Linked DNA regions of Homo sapiens. The protein of the gene in region 1 interacts with the protein of each later gene in a pairwise test. Each region holds a gene or a part of one and is shown in the gene's direction. Other genes may lie near its edges.

Region 1 (5,502 bases):
TGGCACCGAATACATTGACAGTGTTGTGTAATCACCACTATTTGAAAACTTTCTCTTCACCCCACACAAAGCGAATTATAGCCATTAAACAATCAATAACTTCATTTCCCCTCTCCCTAGCTGCTAGTAACTTTTATTTTACGTTGTCACTATGAATTTGGCCCATTCTAGATACCTCATGTAAGTGGGATCATATAATATTTGTCCTTTTGTGGCTGTCTTTATTTCATCTAGCGTAATGTTTTTATCCATGTAAAAGCATGGATCAGAGCTTCAGTCCTTTTAGTGACTGAATTTACACAATTCATTTTATGTATTTTGCACACATTGTTTAGTCATTAAACTTTTGGTGGTCAGTGGGTTTCCACCTTTTCCCTATGGTGAGTACAATGCTGCTATGAAAATGGGTGCACTAAGTATTTGCTTGAGTCCTTGTATTTAACTTCACCTTGAGGTGGAATTGGGACTGAAAATTCTGTGGGTAACTTTTTTTTCCGGACAGGATCTTGTTCTGTCTCTGCAGTTGTGCACTCATAGCTCACTGCAGCCTTGGCTTCCTGGGCTCAGCCGATTCGCCTACCTGAGCCTTCCAAGTAGCTGTCACTAGAGGTGGATGCCACCATACCTGGCCTTTTCTTTTCCTTTTTTTTTTCTTTTTTCTTTTTTTTGAGGGAGAGCCTGGCACTGTCACCCAGGCTGGAGTGCAGTGGCGTGATCTTGGCCCACTGCAACCTCTGCCTTCCAGGTTCAAGCGATTCTCCTGCCTCAGCATCCAAAGTAGCTGGGATTATAGGCGCCTGCCACCATGCCTGGCTAATTTTTTGTATTTTTAGTAGGGATGGGGTTTCACAGTGTTGGCCAGGCTAGTCTCGAACTCCTGACCTCGTGTGATCTGCCCGCCTCGGCCTCCCAAAGTTCTGGGATTACAGGTGTGAGCCACTGTGCTTGGCCAGCCCTTTTTTTTTTTTTTTTTTAAGATGGAGTCTCGCTCTGCTGGCCAGGCTGGAGTACAGTGGTGCGATCGCAGCTCACTGCAACCTCCACCTCCCAGATTCAAGCGATTCTGGTGCTTCAGCCTCTCAAGTAGCTGGGATTACAGGCATGTGCCACCATGCTTGGCTAATTTTTGGGGGCATTTTTAGTAGAGACGAGGTTTCACTATCTTGGTTAGGCTGGTCTCAAACTCCTGACCTCAGCCTCCCTCCCAAAGTGCTGGGATTACAGGCATGAGCCACTGCGCCCGGCCAATTTTTAAATTTTTTTTGGGCTGCGTGCAGTGGCTCACGCCTGTAATCCCAGCACTTTGGGAGGCCGAGGAGGGCAGATCACGAGGTCAGGAGATCGAGACCATCGTGGCTAACGTGGTGAAACCCCGTCTCTACTAAAAATACAAAAAATCAGCCGGGCGTGGTGGCGGGCGCCTGTAGTCCCAGCTACTCGGGAGGCTGAGGCAGGAGAATGGCGTGAACCTGGGAGGCGGAACTTGCAGTGAGCCAAGATCACGCCACTGCACTCCAGCCTGGGCGACAGAGCGAGACTCCGTCTCAAAAAAAAAATTTTTTTTTGTTGTTTTGTTTTGTAGAGGCAGGGTCTGGCTGTGTTGCCGAAGCTGGTCTTGAAATCCTGGCCTCAAGTAATCCTCTTGCCTTAGCCTCCCAAAATGCTGAGAATACAGGCCTGAGCCACTGCACCAGGCCCTTTTGCCCATTTTTGAATTCATGTTTTTTTCGTTTGTTAAGTGTTGAGAGTTCATTATTCCAGATAGTAACCTCTTAGCAAGTAAATGGTTTGTGAGTATTTTCTCCTCTTCTGTAGGTTGGCATTTTGTTGTTGTTGTTGTTTTTTGCTATTGTCTTTTTCTTTTTTTTTTTCCCCCGAGAGGAGAGTCTCGCTGTGTTTCCCAGGCTGGAGTGCAGTGGTGCAATCTCAGCTCACTGCAACCTCTGCCTCCCGGTTTCAAGCGATTCTCCTGCTTCAGCCTCCCAGGTAGCTGGGATTACAGACGCCCGCCACCATACCCAGCTAATTTTTGTATTTTTATGTAGAGATGGGTTTTCACAGTGTTGGCCAGGCTGGTCTTGGACACCTCACCTTAAGTGATCCAGCCACCTCGGCCTCCCAAAGTGCCGAGATTACAGGCGTGAGCCACTGCACCCAGCCTATTTTAAATTTTTACAGTAAATATTGCAGTAGCAAAATGGTTTTTTTGCTTTTTTTTTTTATTTTGACGGAGTCTCACTCTGCTGCTGTGGCTGGAGTACAGTGGCGTGATCTCAGCTCACTGAAAGCTCAGCCTCCTGGGTTCAGGCGATTCTCTCGCCTCAGCCTCCCAAGTAGCTGGTACTACAGGCACCCGCCACCACGCCCGGTTAATTTTTTGTATTTTTTTTTTTTTTTTTTTGAGACGGAGTCTCGCTATGTCCCCCAGGCTGGAGTGCAGTAGCGCGATCTCGGCTCACTGCAAGCTCTGCCTCCCGGGTTCACGCCATTCTCCTGCCTCAGCCTCCCGAGTAGCTGGGACTACAGGCGCCCGCCACCACGCCCGGCTAATTTTTGGTATTTTTAGTAGAGATGGGGTTTCACCGTGTTAGCCAGGATGGTCTCGATCTCCTGACCTCGTGATCCACCCGCCTCGGCCTCCCAAAGTGCTGGGATTACAGGTGTGAGCCACCGCGCCCGGCCTATTTTTTGTATTTTTAATAGAGATGGGGTTTCCCTGTGTTAGCCAGGATGGTCTCGATCTCCTGACCTCGTGATCTGCCCTCCTCGGCCTCCCAAAGTGCTGGGATTACAGGCGTGAGCCACCGCGCCCGGCCCCTTTTGGTTTTTGTATGTGTTTTTTTTTGGTTTGTTTGAGGACAACTGCTTAAGCAAAGTAGGGTTTTTAAGTGAAAGCCTTTCAAAGTTTGAGGAAAGGGGATTAACTGATACATTGGAACTTTAATGTTGACTATTATAGGCATGCTTCACTGCGCTTGACTGAATTTTTTTTTTTTTTTGCATTTTTAGTAGAGACAGGTTTTCACCATCTTGGTCAGGCTGGTCTCGAACTCCTGACCTCAGGTGATCCACCTGCCTCAGCCTCCCAGAGTGCTGGGATTACAGGCGTGAGCCACTGCGCCCAGCCAATGTAAAAACATTCTAAATGGCTAGTTGAGTTTGTCCAGATAGGGATCGTAACTGAAGAAGCTGTGGCTATTTAGCTAATACTGGTGGTTGCACCTTTCCTTGTCAGACTCCAGTCTAGCTGTCCCACGTGTAGCTCCAGTTTAAAGTCACTCGCATGCCTTTGCTCATGCTTCTGCTTAAACCTGAAGTGTGTTTTGTTTTCTCCTTATCCATTGAGATTAGTTCAAATTTGACTTTCCCTTTAATTGCTCCTCCTTCTGGGTCCCTGAAATACTTTATTTGGAATAGCACTTCATTCTTCTTCTTCTTTTGTTTTTGTGCTCTCTTGCCCAGGCTGGAGTGCATTGGCACAGTTTCACCTCACTGCAACCTCCGCCTCCCAGGTTCAAGGGATTCTTCTGCCTCAGCCTCCTGAGTAGCTGGGATTACAGGCATACGCCACCATGCCCGGCTAATTTTGTGTGTGTGTGTGTGTGTGTGTGTGTGTGTGTGTGTGTGTGTGTTTTTAGACGGAGTCTTGCTCTGTTGCCCAGGCTGGACTGCAGTGGCGTGATCTCGGCTCACTGCAGGCTCCGCCTCCTGGGTTCACACCATTCTCCTGCCTCATCCTCCCAAGTAGCTGGGACTACAGGCACCTGCCACTGCTCCCGGCTAATTTTTTTGTATTTTTAGTAGAGACGGGGTTTCACTGTGTTAGCCAGGATGGTCTCGATCTCCTAACCACGTGATCCGCCCGCTTCTGCCTCCCAAAGTGCTGGGATTACAGGCTTGAGCCACTGCACCCGGCCTAATTTTTTGTGTTTTTAATAGGTTTTGCCATGGTGGCCCGGCTGGTCTTGAACTCCTGGCCTCAAGTGATCTGCGCGCACGCATCAGCCACCCAAAGTGTGCTGATTACAGGCATGAGCCACCACAGCCAGCCTCCTCCTTGTAAAATAGTTATGTATTTGTCTACCCTCCATTTCTAAATTTTTAAGTTGATGTGGACTTAGATTATGTCTCTTTTTTTTCTATTGGTATATCGTATCGTTTGTTGGACATAGTACACAGTACTCAGTAAGTGTGGATTTTCTTTTAAAACTGTAAATGGCTTACATAATCACATTTCCATGGCGTCTGTGTTGCCTTTTATTTTCTTTGCTTCCCTGCCTCCATTAACGTGAAATTAAATTTTTTTAAACTTTGAGGTATTGTCCAAGATTTTCTTTTTGCATTAATACTTTGTTAAATATCTCAACCTTGTAATCCAGCACTTTGGGAGGCTGAGGCGGGCACATCACGAGGTCAGAAGATCAAGACCATCCTGGCTAACACGGTGAAACCCTGCCTCTGCTAAAAATATAAAAACAAATCAGCCGGGTGTGGTGGCGGGCGCCTGTAGTCCCGGCTACTCGGGAGGCTGAGGCAGGATAATGGTGTGAACCCAGGAGGCGGAGCTTGCATTTAGCCTACATCCCGCCACTGCACTCCAGCCTGGGTGATAGAGCGAGACCCCGTCCCCCAAAAAAAAAAAAAAAAAAAAAAAATTTTTTTTTTTTTTTTTTTTTTTTTTTTTTTTAAAAAATCTTGGGGGTGGTAGTGTGTACCGTTTGTCCCAGCCACTCAAGAGGCTAAGGTTCGGAAGATTGCTTGAACGCAGGAGTTCAAGTCCAGCCTGGGCAACATAACGAATCCCTTAAAAAAAAAAAAAAAAAAAAAAAAAAAAAAAAACTAGGCTGGGCGCGGTGGCTCACGCCTGTAATCCCAGCACTTTGGGATGCTGAGGCTGGTGGATCACGAGGTCAGGAGATCGAGACCATCCTGGCTAACACGGTGAAACCCCATCTCTACTAAAAATACAAAAAATTAGCCGGGTGTGGTGGCGGGCGCCTGTAGTCCCAGCCATTCGGGAGGCTGAGGCAGGAGAATGGCATGAACCTGAGAGGCGAAGCTTGCAGTGAGCCGAGATCACGCCACTGCACTCCAGCCTGGGCGACAGAGCCAGACTCCGTCTTAAAAACAAACAAACAAAACTTTTTGAAATAAGTGAACTATTGCCTAGAACTTGGAGGTATATTTTTTGGTGATGGTTTAGGATGGAAGTTGTTCTATGTATTTTATTAGTCGATATGTATATTATAGCATATCAGTAGCAGGCTTAAAGCATAGTAAGAAGTAGTGTTCCACATACCTTTAAGTTAATTTTTATTGTATTTGCTTTTTCTTTGCATTATCATTGTGACTATTACAAACTGGAATAACTGAAGAAAAGATTGCTGTCTAGCATGTCATTTCTAATTCTGATTTTGGACTTAATTTTTATAACACTTCTATTGAAATACCTTTAGGTTGGCAAAAGCAGCTTTTGATGATGCAATTGCAGAACTGGATACG
Region 2 (5,502 bases), on another chromosome or scaffold:
CCAAGAAAGCAGTTGGCACTAGGGTCCCAGTCTTAGACCCTGCCCCGCGAGTCACCTGGGCAAGTCACTGTCCCTTTCTTGGCCCCAGTTTCCTTATCTGCAAAATGGAATTGGCCACAGTGCTCCTTCAGGAGGCTTTTAGCTCTCGTCTTCTGCGGTTTGGGGTTTGAGAGTTTCCAGGGTTTGCCCTGGAGATGAGCCTGTTTCAGACCCTGACCTTTGTGCCTTCAGGGAACGTGCTCTCAGGAGACCTCTTGCTGTTGATGGGGAGGCTGAGACAGGATCGCTTCAGAGCTGAGTGGAGACACATGATATTGACTAGAGTTCCCTCCCAGAGGCTCAGGTGGTCTCTGGGAGGGAAACATGATCCAATAAATGGGGACTGTGGGAATTACATTTCTCCCATTTCCGTCATTTCTGGGAGGCTCCAGGAGAGTGAAGTTAGTTTAATTAGCCCAGGGCTTTGTTGACTCCGGTTGGGAAGCTCCCTGTGTACCTCCAATGCCCCACCCACCCACCATCCAGGTGCAGTTTCTCTGGACCCTGCTTGCTGCTCTCTTGGGCTAAATGACGTGGTTCTTGGACCAAGTAGCTAAGATACCACATTTTTTTTTATTATAAGCAATAAAGACTAACAACTAAATGAATTCTTGATTAAAGTGAAAAACAATGATCTTTGATGCTTCCATGGGAGGGATCATACTAAATCGTGTGCCTTGGGTGAGGGTCTCAGTAGCCTAAAGTGTGTCCTGCTTTGTGTCCCGGGAGACCTGTGCCCTCTCCTGGGCCTACTCTAGTCCTGAGGGGCAGAGGGAATGGTGTGGGGTCTTTCTGAGGGCATGGGCCTACTGAATAACAATAGTTATTTTTGAAAGATCATTGTTTCCCTAATTCTGTGGCTAAGAGGGGCCCATTTAGGAAGAGGTCAGGAGGGTGGTTGAGGCGGGGAGGGGGACTCTTAAGGAAAAGACAACTCAAACGGGAGGATGGAAAAAGCATTGTATTTGATTGTTTTCTTTCCTGTAGGATGATGCCTCCCAGGAGAATAACATGCAAGCTGAGGTGACAGGTAAACTAAAACAGCACTTTAATAATGCGCTCCCCAAACAGAACAGCACTACCACCGGGGTCTCCGTCATCATGGTGAGTGGAAGGCGGCAGGTCTGGCCTGACTGCGGAGCCGGCCTTGAAGTTTTTGAATTAGGTAGCCGGGAGCTGCCCTCACATGGAAGTTGGTGCCTTCCGTAGTCCTATTTCATATGAAGATTGGCTTGGCATGTGGAGGGCACTCATTCGGCAACTCCCAGGCTTTGGGCACTGTGTGGAGGGGCTTGTGTAGGGACCAGCAGGCCTGGTGTGAGGGGTCCAGGCGTCAAGGAGCTCCTGGCTGGGCCCTCTGGGCAGCTGCTTCCACTCTTGTCTCTGCCTTCTCATCTAGAGAGACTCCCAAGCCCTGGAGGGGTGTGTTGTGTTAGGAATTAACTCCCTGCCTACCCCAAGGCCTCAGAAATAGATTATTAGAGATGTGAATTATTCTTTGAGACTTGGGATAAGAAACAGCCAAAGCTAAACATATTTCAGTTTTAAAAAATCAGTGTTTTATAAAACACAGTTTGGGGCTTTTAAAGGTACATAATCAAGGAAAAAAATATATATTCATTTTTCAGGGTTGGTAACATTTTATGAGATGTCAGTGACAACGATGGCCTTATTTTTTTCAGCCTTTTCTTCTTCCAAAATGTTTCTTAAGGCAACTCTCCTAAATACATAAACACAACAAATTAAAATGAAAAGTGACATGAGAGTAAATGAATCAAAAGGAAAAAACATTGAACCAGAGGTGAGGGCAGCACACCCGCAGCAGCTGTCCAGGCCTGAGCCAATGCAACCCTGGGCGGGAAGGCCAGCTCACCGTGAGCAGGTAGAAGCCAGCCAGCCACCCAGGCAGGGACCTTGGTTCTCCCCACACACTCCCAGGAGCAGGGAACAGGGGTGGAGTGGCCTTTCCCAGAGCTGGAGTTGGCTGCAGCAGCTTTCGAATCAGACCTGCCAAGGTGATGGGCGTCTGAGTTTCACATCTGGGCCCCCCGTGACCCCACTGAGTCCTGACAGCTAAGGATGGGCCACCTCCACAGCTCCGTCACTCGTACTTGGGACAGGCCTCTCATCCTCTGGGAAGGTCCTCCTTGTTTCCTACCCAACTAGAAGGGAAACAGTGGCATATTCTCATGGTACATGGTTGTCTGAGAGCCTTACCTAGGAAGACGCAGGGTCTAGATAGAAGCTATAAGGAAGCCACACACATAACCCACATCCCCACACCCCCAACATCCCCCACACTCCCCACACCCCCCACACCCCCCACATCCCCACACACCACAAATCCTCCACACCCCCACACCACACATCCCTCACACCCCCCACACCACACATCCCCCACACCACACATCCCTCACACCCCCCACACCACACATCCCCCACACCACACATCCCTCACACCCCCCACACCACACATCCCCCACACCACACATCCCTCACACCCCCCAACACCCCCACACACCCCCCACACCACACATCCCCCACACCACACATATCCCCCACACCCCCCACACATCCCCCACACCCCCCACATCCCCCACACCCCCCAAATCCCCCACACCACCCACATCCCCCACACCCCACACATCCCCCACACCCCCACACATCCCCCACACCCCACACATCCCCCACACCCCCCACACCACACATTCCCTCACACCCCCCACACCACACACCCCCACATACCCCCACACACTCCCATCCCCCACACCACACATCCCGCACACCCTCCACACCACACATCCCCACACACCTCACACCCCCCACACCCCCACACAACCCACATCCCCCGCACCACACATCCCCTACACCCCCCACTCTACACACCCCACACCCCAACACACCCCACATAACCCCCACATACCCCACACCCACACCCCCCACACCCCCCACACCCCCACCCCCCACATACACACCCACACACCCCACACCCCCACATAGCCCACACAGCCTACACACCCCACACCCGAACACACCCCACATACCTCCACACACCCCACACCCCCCGCCCCCACGAGCGTGCAGCACTCTGTTATATGCATTGAGCATACACCAGGTACCCCCACACACCCCCAACACCCCCACACACCCCACACCCGAACACACCCCACATTCCCCACACACCCCACACACCCCACGAGCATGCAGCACTCTGTTATATGGATTGAGCGTCCACCAGGTTCTCAGCACCCACTGGGCCGTCATTCTCTTCTGTCCCCCGGCTGCGTTTATGTGGCCACCCTCTGTGTGTCCTTGCAACTCCCCAGCTGCTCCCCTGCCAGAAAGTGTGCTCTCCCTCTCTCCCTCTCTCCCTCTCCAGACAGAGCCTGGGTTTGCAAGCTGAGTCTTTTGATGGCTTGCAGGACTTTGGGGGCGCTCTGTGCCAAAGCAGTGAGAAGGCCTTTTGAGTTGTGGTTTCCCTTGAATTTTAGCAGTGTTTTGCTGAAAGCCTGAGAAAGTCAGAGTTGTCAAAGAATTACAGCTTAGACACTTTGAAAAGAACCATCTTGATTGAGCCAACAGCATGAGAATGTTTCCAGCGATTCCCTTGCGAGAGCTAGCATTGATGGATGGGCTCAGTGGTACACAGTCTTGCTGTGCACTGCGTTGTAAGGCAGCTTCTTGGAAAATTTAGAAAAATAAAACATTAAAAATTGGCATACTCAACGTGTCATGAAAAAACCTTAAGAAGAGAGATTGGTTAGGATCAAAATTTAATAACCATGTTAAGTCTTCTGAGAGGAAGAACCTTTAACCGCCCTGTGCCCAGGGCTTAGGAGAGTTTGCTCGGAGACTGTGAAGGGAGTCATTGCTGGGGTCACTTTTTGACTCAGGGGCCCAGATAGGAATCAGTGGCCATAGGCCTGTGCCCGGCCTCTTTATGGCTGGCTCTCAGCTGACATTCTGGAATGATTAGCTGTTCTACAGGCTCTGTCCTAGATAATGACGCTTAGACCCCCTCAGACAGAACCTATGTCGTGTGGTTTACAAATACCATTTTCCATTTGCTGATGAGGAGTTCAGGACTCAAAAGACAAACCCCTGGGCTCTGACAGGGTGTTTGTGTGAACAAACAACCCGTTATTGTTTGCAGCTCTGATGGTGATTGTAAATGTTGTATGTTTATGTGTGTTCAGTTGTCATTTTGCGCATGTTGGCAGGGTGTCCCCTCTAACCCCATGTTACCTACACAACTCTGCAGGCTGTTAGCTCAGAGGAACTGCTGATGTCATGATCCCATTCAGTACCTACAGGGAAATTCAATCAGTCTTGCCTCTGGTGGCACCCATTCTCGATGGCCAAAACACCAGCCTGTGACTTTTGGGCTGTCCCAAAAAGTGGGAGGGGAAGGCCTGCTGCTGATCCTCCCCTGGCGCAGGACCTGGTCTGGGGCATGGTTGTGTGGGGGAACTTGCGATGCTGCTGTATTGTCCTCCTCGTCCTCCTCATCCTCCTCGTCCTCCTCATCCTCCTCATCCTCCTCATCCTCCTCACGTCACTGTGTGTCCTGTCTTCGGAACAGTTTTAAGTGTTTTTACATTAAAAATAACCTCAAAATGACTCTCCCTGGTACTCATAGGTCCTCATAACTGAGACTGTGGGGCCAACCTGGTTTTCTGCAGATACAAATGATAGTGGAAATAGTGTCAACCGTCTGGAGGTTGAATCATCAGATAACTTACAGACAGGACCTTCCCATCTGCTGTCACCCTAGTGTTCTCATCCCCAGAGCTGGGGCCTGAGACTTCAGTGAGAAAATGATGGGCTAGAAATTGGTCCATAAAGGTGAAAAAAAAGTAAAGTTGATGGTGTTATCTGCATTTTGTTTGACAGTTTGATTTGACAGTTTGAGAGGCACCTCAGAGTTTCCTTCTTTACCCCGCTGAGACAGTGGGAGAGCCTGAAGCAGAATCCTGGTATTCACCACGCTGCGTCCGACCAGCGCGCCCCATCCTCAGCCCCTCTCACGCCTGCATGCTTGTCTCAGTTTCTGATGCCGCCGTCCGGCTCTCAGCTGCTTACTGGTGTGGGTCTTTTGTACCTACTCACATCCTTTCCAGCCAGCCAAGCAGGCCCCTGGAAAACTTTATTTTCAAACTTCTCAGCTTACCACACTGCCTGCCTTTCCAGACCAACAGCTGGTGAGAGCACGGGAGGAGTCCCATAGTTCTCCTACCGATGCTGTTTCCCACTTAGGTGAAAAGTGGCTTTTCGGAAAGAGCAGCTTAAGATGGTGCCTTCGTGAAGGCTTTTGTTCTTTCTCCAGCTGCATTTCCAAAGATGAGTTTGTATCAGTAAGTGTAATCTCAGCCAGCCTTTGGGATAAGAGAAGATAATTTAATGGGTGAGGCCTTGGTTTCAGGCAGGGCTGAGGTGTGGGATTACAGTTCCCATTTTCTTGGA
Region 3 (5,502 bases), on another chromosome or scaffold:
CAGATATTGCTTTGCCATCTATTGGTTTTGTGAACTTGGGCAATAACCTTTCACATCTTCAGTCATCTCTTACCTGAGGATTGTAATATTCTCTATCTCAAAGAGATATTTGGAGGAGTAAATAAGAATGTTAATATATGGATCTTAATTAACATAATGACCAGCACCTGGTAAGCTGTCAATAAACATTAGCTATTATTATTATTATTAGCTTTGAGTCACAAATCCCTACCTTAGGGAATATCCTGGTTTCCCATTATCCATCAAATTTCCCAAGATTGGCACTTGGGAGTAATCTTTGACTCCTTTGTTTTTTGCTCCCTTTATCCACTTGACCCTCCTAATTGTCATTTGAATCTTTGTACTTCTCACTGTTCTCAGTGCTGGTACCATGGGCCAGACTGCCATCCATTATCTGTGGCCACATTAACAAGAGCATCCAGTTCTCACCCTCTGATTATACTCTCTTCAACATATTTTCAGCATTGCAGACAGAGGGACCTTTCTAAAATGTACATCAATCTGATGCAATTTTCCTGCTTAAAACCCTTCAGTGGTATCCCATTGTCCTTTATATGAAGTCCAAATTCCTTAAGACAGCCTACTGGGCCCTTCATAATTCAGTGCTTGCTTACCTGTCTAGATTCATATTTTGCAAGCTTTTTGCCATCTGTGCTTTACCCAAACTGAAATTGACTCAGATCTCTAAGACAACCTGTTATTACCTTTCACCCCCAACCTTTGAATGTGGTCTTCTCCTTACCTGGATGACTATTATGCCCCCTGCCTATTTCAGTCCAAGCACCACTTGCTCTGAGTGGCAGGTTAGGTGACTTTGTGCTTCCATTGCATCTAATGTTTTCCTTCACAGTAGCTATAATTGTATTTGTTAAAGTAGTTTCTCAATACCACTAAATCTACTGGCTTTCAACATTGGCTGTGCATTTAGAAACCACTAGGTAGCTGAAAATAATATGATACCTGGGCCCTACCTCAGACCAATTAAATCAGACCAGTTAAGCCTGGGATGGGGATCAGATTTTTTTTTTCAGGTTCTCAAGTGATTCTAAAGTATATTTGAGGTTAAGATATACTGCGGAGTGCAGTGTATTATAAGTTCCCATGAATGAGGATTTTTATTTCTGTCTTTACATATTTATTTACTAGTATGTGGTTAACATTTGGATCAACTCATTCTCATTCTGTAATACCCACATTTTAAAAAATGAATGTAAAAATGTCTTTTATTATTTTTATTTTTCAAATTTAATTTTAGATTCCAGGAATACATGTGCAGGTTTGTTACAAAAGTATAGTGCGTGATGCTGAGGTTTGGAATACAACTGAACTCACAACCCAGAAAGTGGGCATAGTGCTTGATAGGTAGTTTTTCATCTTTGCTCCCCTTCCTGTAATTTCCACTTTTAACCCAATTATACAAGCCTGAAAACCTTTAAAAAGAAAGGGCCTCCAGTTTATTTTTTTATTTCATAGCACATTTTATGGGATTATGGATATCAGTTAACTCTTTAAAGTTCCATATAAGATTTGGAGCATAGATGCTTTACTAGAGAGCATCCATAAAGATCAAGCTCTCAAAGATGCTCATCTCCCAAAAGAGATTGGGACCTAGATGCATAAACACTTAAATATAAATATTTGCTCTCTTCTGAACAAGTATCTCCTGTGGCCTTGGTCTCTACCCCACAAAACAGACATCACATCACTAATCAGGGGTTGCCTCATCATCAGTACCCTCATCATCATCAGTACACACCGACTGAGAGGCATGTTGGGTAATGAAAGATGACTGCCTTTGAAGCCGGAAGACTCCATAGGACTTTTGGAGTTCTAGGTCTGCAACATGTTTTTAGTCCTAGGTCGGCAAGCATGATGTTAGTCATAGGACCTTGAGCAAATTATTTAGCATTTGTACATGTTTCTTTCTACTATTAAAAACATTGAGATTTATCATATTTTATGTTTTTTTATTAAGGATCAAGCAAGATAACACACAAAAGTATTTTATAAAATACGGAAATTCCATGCAAAACTTTGTCCTAATTGGAACTATTTTCTATTAAATACAGCAAATATCCAAGAAGGAATTACCTAAAGCGTAGTGGCTCTCTGACAACACATCATATTTTTACCTCCTTTTCCAGAATAGAAAGAAAAGGGGGAGGAAAAAAAATCTTCCTACTCTAGGATATACTAATGATTGTTAAATCTTTATGGTATTTTCATGTTATCTATCTGATTTAAATGCAATTTTGACTATTTTTACATATTCCTCGTTGTTCATTCATACTGTAGTGCCTTCTTCTATTCCCCCACTTAACAGACTGCTTGATTATATCAGAGGTGCTTATCTGTGCAACTGTTTACTGGACGAGGGGTATGTAGAAAATACATTGTCCTCATCCTTATGAAATTACACTCATAATCTAGTGTGAGGGATGCACTAATAAAGACAATTTTATATTTAATAAGGTCTATAATATGACAGTGACACCAGTGGGGAAAAGGGACTGGTTGGTCTATTTTGATAGGTCAGGGAAGAAATCCAGAGGAGCCGACATTTAAGTTCATCCTCAAAGGCCAAGTAGGAGTTTGCCATGCTGATGTGGCCCAAGGTAGCCAATCTGTTTGTGAAATATGTACAATGCCAGATGTCTTAGGTTGAAAGGGAAATATTTTAAGGTGTTCGTAATTTTTCTTTATGTTTAAAAGGGGAAAATGGCAAATATTTTACTTTCTGTTTATGTTTGGATGATGTGGATTTTTGTTTTCTATAATTTGACTGGCTTAACTGCAAAGATATCCCTTGCTTTAAAATTTGAAGACACTGCAACTAAATTTTATTTCAGCATTTTATATTTTATAACTCTAGGTATAAAAGGCTAACACTTAATTTTCTGAGCATTCATGAAACAAAGTTTTGCAAGAACATTCAAAAGTTACAGATATAATATTTCCTTCAGAAATTTAGATATAGTACAAAATTCTACAAAGAGCCACATAGAATTGAAACTAAAAGTAAGACCAAAGTAAACATTGGACATAATCTTTATTTTATTATCACAAGAAATTAATATAAAGTAACCAAAAGTAAGTAAAGTACCAAAGCATGTTATATATTCAATTCAGAATGGTTAGGGAAGAATATGAAATAATTGCAATAGTCTAGCTTGTTTAGTTTTCAAAATAGTGTTTTTACATTAAGAACTAATATAAGGTTGTATTACACGTAGAAATTTTAAGAAGAAAACAAATAGTGATGACTTTCTATTTTTTTTTCTCTGTAGGTTTTCTTATGCAGCTTTCAGTGATTCCAACATCATAACAGTGGTGGTAGACACTGCTCTCTATATTGCTAAGCAAAATAGCCCTGTTGTGGAAGTGTGGGATAAGAAAACTGAAAAACTCTGTGGACTAATAGACTGCGTGCACTTTTTAAGGTAAATTCTGTGGTTTTTAATTTTATTCCCAAAAGAATTATCTTTGCACTTCATGTGTCACAGAGGAAGGATTTTTCTTCCTTTCTGCCTCTGAATAGAGAATTTTTTTAAAATGCAGAAAAAAATTTGTAATGCTTCTCAGCACCATCTTTTCAGATCAAGAAAATTTTGTCTTCAGAACATAAAAGAATAGGCACATAATGTGCATAGTTTTCTCATGGTATTACAAAGAATGTTCTCGAATGAAAATACTACATTATTGAAAATGAGCATATTGGAGTCTCTGCTAGCTTTGACATAGTTCTGTCACAGTGTCAAATATACTATTTATAATTAAATTATGGGCCCCAGGATTATCTGCTCTAAAGAAAAAGAGTCACAAAATAATAGACAAATATGGGGGGAAATGCAATGGACTGACCGAGGCGCTAAGGAGTGGGGATCAAGACCCCAGAATGAGAGCATAGTGCTTAGTCTGATGCAGCCTGTGAGTGACAAATCCATAGCAAGCACATTCTTTCTGTGCTGGTGCTGAGAAACAGGACCATTTTCAAGCTTATTTGCTAGCCACTTTATATTTTTATTTTGTTTTGATTTTACCATATAGATCTATGATACTCTTGAGAACATTTTAGATTACACACTATATCTGTAAAAGGATACTTCAAAGTTTCCTGTCTTAGATTCATCTGACAGTTTTTCTATGGATTGTGAGAAGGGCTCACAGTTTATGTTCAGAAGGGCCAACAGGTCTCCTTGATAAAGGGTTCCTTACTTCCTGAAGTACCAAAACGATTAGGATTCTTTTATTTCTGGACACTTCATTTTTGTCATGAATTAGACTATTCACTGGTTCTGGGAAAAAATTCAGTGGTTTGTATCGATATCTTTTACATGTGAATGACTATAATTTTATGTTCCTTTGTAACATTGAGACTTCATGTAAAACTTTTGACTCTAACTTTTTTTTTTCTTTATCCTGGGCACATGTATGCTATTTTTACTGAATTAGATAGCTTTGGTATTTATAAAAATTGTATCCCTCTTATTCATAATTTCCTGAAAATGAAGGGCTATTGTTATCTTTGATAATTTATGCTTCAAGTAAAGAAGTGTGGCTCTTTGGCATCTGTATTTAGCAAAATTTGCTTTGTATAATTTTAATGATGCATAATGGTGGTGGTGTCATGTTTTAATAATTTAAAATGTTGTTTATGTTATCATATGTAAATAGCATTTATCTCTTAATTGGTGGTAAAATTATTAATGTATACTTTATGGTTCTAGGGAGGTAATGGTAAAAGAAAACAAGGAATCAAAACACAAAATGTCTTATTCTGGGAGAGTGAAAACCCTCTGCCTTCAGAAGAACACTGCTCTTTGGATAGGAACTGGAGGAGGCCATATTTTACTCCTGGATCTTTCAACTCGTCGACTTATACGTGTAATTTACAACTTTTGTAATTCGGTCAGAGTCATGATGACAGCACAGCTAGGCAAGTTTCTTTCCTTTAGATATTTTTCATATTCTCTAAGTCTTATAAAATATGCCTTTATTTTACGTTTACATTTTCTCTGAACTTTCCAGTGTCATATGGATGGTCTTGGAGGGTCACACAGTGAAACATAAGACTGGTATAAATTGTGAATAGGGTCATTACAGAAGTGGAGGGAGTAAATGCTCTCAGTCCCACAAGAGAAGCAGATTACTGCAGCTGAACACTCAGTTTGGGTCTTACTTGCTTTTTTCCTTTTTACCTAAGGCAAAAATGGGAAATACATGGTATTGAATATATTTTACTTTTTGAGCAAAGAAAATAAAGAAAATGTTTGTTTTAATCATAGTCTAGCCTCCCAGCTTGTTAAAGAATCTCATTTGGTTTTTCATTCTATAACAAATCTTTTTTCTTGCAGCAATACATGCTGAACTGCACAACCTACAAATATTGACAAATCATATTTTACTCAAACTTTGTCTTTTTTTGCTTCTATTTTTATATTTAAATATGATAAAATTGTGATAGCACATAAAATATATTTT
Region 4 (5,502 bases), on another chromosome or scaffold:
TCTACCTGAAAAGAGAGGTTAAATCATATTTTTGTTGAAGCTCCAATATACTTAACTGCTTATTTTTCTCTGTCTTTTATTAAGACTGTGTGTCATGAGTACATGACATTAATATTTTGTGAATAGTATAGCAGTGTTACAGAAATGGGATGTGGTTCTGTGATTAAGAAACCATCATTTATTTCTTTGCTATAGTTCTTTTTTTTTTTTTTTTTTTTTTTTTGAGACGGAGTCTCGCTCTGTCGCCCAGGCCGGACTGCGGACTGCAGTGGCGCAATCTCGGCTCACTGCAAGCTCCACTTCCTGGGTTCACGCCATTCTCCTGCCTCAGCCTCCCGAGTAGCTGGGACTACAGGCGCCCGCCACCGTGCCCGGCTAATTTTTTGTATTTTTAGTAGAGACGGGGTTTCACCTTGTTAGCCAGGATGGTCTGCTATAGTTCTTAAAATATCTAATTGAACTGAATCTCTCTATTTGAATGTTGGTGATTTTTTCCCTCTTATCTTTTAAATTTGTGCCACATTCCTTATTTTTTAGGATGAGAATCAGCGTAACTTTCCGTCTCAGGGAATAGTTTTTGGAGTTTGTTCTTAAATCCTCAAAGTCACCGATTAGGAGTATTGGCAAATTTTTTTCTCTTACCTTTTTTCTGACCCGTAGTAACACAGTCTGAGAAGTAATCTAAAAACCTGGAAAGAGGTTGTTTTTGTGTAAAACAAACCAGGAATCTATTGTTGCTTTGTGACAATTCATTTCTTGACATTCAAATTCTGATGCAAGAGCCTAGTCATTTAAAATTTATCTTATTCCACCAGCAGCTTATCAAAGAATTTCAAAAAATAAAAAATATATGTATATAAATATAAATAAAATTCATCTTAGTTCATCCCTATGGAAACATTCAACTAAAACTGGGCTCTCATTTTCAGAAATCATCCTAAACCTGTTATTTGGGTTTTCTGGTAGTTTTTACATTTTTTTAGATAAAGCTGTAAAAGCAGCAAGAGTAGCTGTACTCAATTATCATTTCTGAAAATATTTAGCATACTATGAAATAATTCATAATTACCGTTAGTACACCTTTGCTATACCAGTTCTTTAAATTATATTGATAATTTAAATTATATATTTAGTAACTTGCATTTTGTTTGAGTTTTTTGTTTTTTTGTTTTTGAGACAGAGTCTCACTCTGTCGCCCAGGCTGGAGTACAGTGGCGCGATCTCGGCTCACTGCAACCTCCACCTCCCGGGTTCCAGCAATGCTCCTGCCTCAGCCCCCTGAGTAGCTGGGATTACAGGCGAGCGCCACCACGCCCGGCTAATTTTTGTATTTTTAGTAGAGATGGGGTTTCACCATGTTGGCCAGGCTGGTCTTGAACACCTGACCTCGTGATCTGCCCGCCTTGGCCTCCCAAAGTCCTGGGATTACAGGCTTGAGCCACCATGCTCAGCCGTTTTGTTTTGTTTTAAAACCTGGTCTGCAGGAATAGGTGAGACTTAGCATGACCTCAGTTTATGTTTGAAGAGGCCATTTTTCTGCCTTGTAACATAGTAGTTAAGAACTAGATTGCCTGGGCTCAAATCAAGGCTCAGCTACATAATTGTGTCACCTTGAGCAAGTTTTGTGCTACAGTTTCCTGTCTGTAAAATGGGTGTAAAAAAGAGTACCCATTTTATAGAGTTGTGCTGATTAAATGAATGAACATATATAAAACATGTAGGATAGGGCCTGCCACATAAATATTAACTGTGATGATGCAGCATCTTTTTTAGGTTGTCCTTTTGAGGGAATCTGTGAAGATTTTGTTTGTTTATATTTATGCTTGAAAAATCATATAGCAAAACTTAACTACTGTTCTTGGAGGAGGAGGAAAGCAGGTATTGATCTTTATGTTACTGGTGCTTTTAAATTCCTTAGCTCTACCTGGCCTTTGCCTAACATTTTAATTTTGTGACCCATCACCCAAATGCCAATCTTTCTGAACTGCTTATTTTCAGAATCTGCTAAGATCCTTGTCTCATCTTTGCATGTATCTAGAAAGCATATTTTCTTTTGGTGGATCTCATATATAATTCTTATAGTATTTATTTATCATATTGAAATTGTTTATATATTTTGTCTAATCCATTAGTCTTTGGAAAGTTCACTATGGTGTAATAGAATACTATACAATGAAAAGGAGCACCAAGGCAGAACCCTTGAGTTCTAGATTACCCAATTTTCTGAGCTTTGAGTAAGGAACTTAATCTATAATGCTCATTTATTAGCAATATGTCTTACTGATTTAGGATTGTTGAAGATCCACTGAAATACTATGTGAATGTACTTTGAAAAATGTTAAGTGTTATATAAAATATAACAGAATACTTAAATATTCATTTAGAAGGCTATAAATTGTCACCTATTACAAATGGAATATATTAAACTTAGTTGGATTTTAGGAGCTTTTTGCTTTGTCAACTTAATTTCTCAAATCTTAACAGGGGAGCTTTTCAGTTTGAAGAAACATTGTCAGAAGCTCTTAATATTTTATTTGGAAGATGATTATGCCTTTGACAGGTAGCAGGCTTAATTTTATATGTAGTTTTTTTTTTATTGTTGTTGTTTTTGATGGGGTCTTGCTCTGTCGCCCAGGCTGGAGTGCAGTGGCGTGATCTTGGGATCTTGGCTCACTGAAACCTCCACCTCCTGTGTTCAAGCGATTCTCCTGCCTCAGCCTCCAGAGTAGCTGGGATTACAGGCACCCACAACCACACCCGGCTAATTTTTTTTTTTTTTTTGTATTTTTAATAGAGACAGAGTTTCACCGTGTTGGACAGGCTGGTCTCAAACTCCTGACCTCAGGTGATCCACCTGCCTTGGCCTCTTAAAGTGCTGGGATTACAGGCATGAGCCGCCGTTCCTGGTCTATATGTAGTTTTTAAAAGATTGGTTATTTGTGATTTTTACATAAGAGGAAAAGCATCAGTAAGCTGTGGTTTTGTGGCCAACTTAATTGATCATATAATATCTCCACCTTCACTTACATTAATTTAGATTTTTCAGGTGGGGTTTCATAAATAATTTACTTTTTAGTGTTGTGACTTGAATCTTGGCTTTGCCAAATTACCATATTAAATACATTATGCTAAATGAATATGTTGGAATGATTTTTTAGAAGAGTCCTCAGATAAGCTGTTAGTCATAACAAGCAAATAATTTTCTCAGGAATGTAAGAATTCTTAAGAATTTTAACAGTTTGAATTTAAGAGTGTTTGGAAATTTGCTTGTTGTAATCATCATACTCAGGTTAGTTAAGAAAAACCACAGTCATTCCTGCAGATACCTTTTGTGCAGCTGAGGTTCAGCTTCTCAGAGACAATATTATTTTTGTCAGTAGATACGTGGTAGATGGTCTAGTTAACCAAACACACACTAATGTATAAACCAAACAGTGAGAGATGAAATTAATTAGTGAATCAAATGATTAATGTGCACATTCTCTGTTACTAGATAGAGATTAACAGATTTCTTGGGATAAGATCATTTTCATGGCTAAGAGTTTTGAGCTACATAACCTGATATATCTATCTTTATGTGGATCATCTCCTTCCATGGACTGGTAGATTATTGTGGATTAAGGTAAATCGGGAAATGCAACAGATTTATCTCTTTAACATGCTAAAGAGTTACTAGATATCATTGTCATATTAAAATGTTCTTTGAACTCTCCATATTGCCCCTCTCACACACAGTCATCCGTCAGTATACACAGGAGATTGGTTCCAGACAGCCCCCACCCCAGGGTACCAAAATTCACAAATGCACAAGTCTCTTAAATAAAATGGTGTATTTTCATATAACCTACAGTAGTACATCCTCCTGTATAGTTTATTTTTTAATTTAATTTTTTTTTTTTTTTGAGGCTGAGTCTTGCTCTGTTGCCCAGGCTGGAGTACAGTGGCACAATCTCAGCTCACTGCTACCTCTGCCTCCTGGGTTCAAGCGATTGTCATGCCTCAGCCTCCCGAGTAGCTGGGATTACAGGCACATGCTACCATGCCCAACTAATTTTTGTATTTTTAGTAGAGATGGGGTTTCATCACGTTGGCCAGGCTGGTCTCGAACTCCTGACCTCAAGTGATCCATCTGCCTCTGCCTCCCAAAACGCTGGGATTACAGGTGTGGCTCCTCACGTATAGTTTAAGTCATCACTAAATTACTTATAATACCTAATACAATGTAAGTGCTATGTAAATAGTTTTTATACTGTAGTGTTTTAAAATTCATGTTGTTTTTTATTATTGTGTTTTGTTATTGTTTTTTCCCCCAATATTTTCATCTGCAGTTAGTTGAATCCATGGATGCAGAACATGTGGATATGGAACCTGAGGATGTGGAGGGCGGACTGTTCTTATGTGTAGAAAGTAGAGAGTAACTGAAGAGTTGAGTTTTAAACAGAGAAGTTAATTGGTTAGATTTGCATAGCAGTAATTGCCCAAAAATAGATTAAAGGCATACAGGGGGAAGTGTAGAGATTCCAGTAGTCCCCACTCTTCTTCTTAGGGGATAATGGTTATTTTTTTCTCCTGCTTTTCATTTTTTTTTTGAGACAGAGTTTCACTCTTGTTGCCCAGCTGGAGTGCAATGGCGCGATCTCGGCTCACCACAACATTTGCCTCCTGAGTTCAAGGGATTCTCCTGCCTCAGCCTCCCGAGTAGCTGGGATTACAGGAAGGCGCCACCATGCCCAGCTAATTTTGTATTTTTAGTAGAGGTGGGGTTTCTCCATGTTGGTCAGGCTGGTCTCCAACTCCCGACCTCAGGCGATCCGCCAGCCTCGGCCTCCCAAAGTGCTGGAATTACAGGTGTGAGCCACCACTCCTGGTCCGTATTTTTATCTTTTGGTTCTGTTTACTTTGAGGTTTGCAAGACCTCCCGTGGATACCTGAAGCTACAGACACTACTGAACCCTATGCATACTTTGCTTTTTCCATCCCATAACCCATTAGACTAAGTGACTAAAGGACGAGATGGGTGGGTGGCATTAACAGTGTGAATATGCTGAACAAAGGGATGACATGTCCCATTCGAGATTTCATCACACTAGTCAGAATGGCACACAATTTAAAAGTCGTGAATTGTTGGCTAGGCGTGGTGGCTCACGCTTGTAATCCCAACACTTTGGGAGGCCGAGGTTAGTGGATAACCTGAGGTCAGAAGTTGGAGACCAGCCTAGTCAACATGGTGAAACCCTGTCTCTACTAAAAATACAAAAAAAAAACTAGCCGGGTGTGGTGGTGCATGCCTGTAATCCCAGCTACTTGGGAGGTTGAGGCAGGAGAATCACTTGAACCCGGGAGGTGGAGGTTGCAGTGAGCCAAGATTGCGCCATTGCACTCCAGCCTGGGCGACAAGAGGGAAACTCTGTCTCAAAAAAAAAAGAAAAAGTTATGAATTGTTTATTTCTGGAATTTTCCATTTAATATTTTTGGACAGTGGGAAGTGAAGCCTCAAGTAAG

What was found. The genes of interacting proteins can lie anywhere in the genome.
Region 2: the proteins of YWHAE (region 1) and DCLK2 interact in binary tests that used the Homo sapiens proteins (3 or more experiments, as listed by UniProt).
Region 3: the proteins of YWHAE (region 1) and LRRK2 interact in binary tests that used the Homo sapiens proteins (3 or more experiments, as listed by UniProt).
Region 4: the proteins of YWHAE (region 1) and WNK1 interact in binary tests that used the Homo sapiens proteins (3 or more experiments, as listed by UniProt).

What each region holds. Positions count from the first base shown.
Region 1 is NC_000017.11:1,354,302-1,359,803, reverse strand, and holds part of YWHAE (14-3-3 protein epsilon), read left to right. Parts: intron 1-5,456; coding exon 5,457-5,502. UniProt on the Homo sapiens protein: Adapter protein implicated in the regulation of a large spectrum of both general and specialized signaling pathways. Binds to a large number of partners, usually by recognition of a phosphoserine or phosphothreonine motif.
Region 2 is NC_000004.12:150,248,542-150,254,043, forward strand, and holds part of DCLK2 (serine/threonine-protein kinase DCLK2), read left to right. Parts: intron 1-1,026; coding exon 1,027-1,143; intron 1,144-4,932; exon of another isoform or gene 4,933-5,015; intron 5,016-5,502. UniProt on the Homo sapiens protein: Protein kinase with a significantly reduced C(a2+)/CAM affinity and dependence compared to other members of the CaMK family.
Region 3 is NC_000012.12:40,360,094-40,365,595, forward strand, and holds part of LRRK2 (leucine-rich repeat serine/threonine-protein kinase 2), read left to right. Parts: exon of another isoform or gene 1-3,091; intron 3,092-3,308; coding exon 3,309-3,461; intron 3,462-4,748; coding exon 4,749-4,957; coding exon of another isoform or gene 4,958-5,040; exon of another isoform or gene 5,041-5,502. UniProt on the Homo sapiens protein: Serine/threonine-protein kinase which phosphorylates a broad range of proteins involved in multiple processes such as neuronal plasticity, innate immunity, autophagy, and vesicle trafficking.
Region 4 is NC_000012.12:758,176-763,677, forward strand, and holds part of WNK1 (serine/threonine-protein kinase WNK1), read left to right. Parts: intron 1-5,502. UniProt on the Homo sapiens protein: Serine/threonine-protein kinase component of the WNK1-SPAK/OSR1 kinase cascade, which acts as a key regulator of blood pressure and regulatory volume increase by promoting ion influx.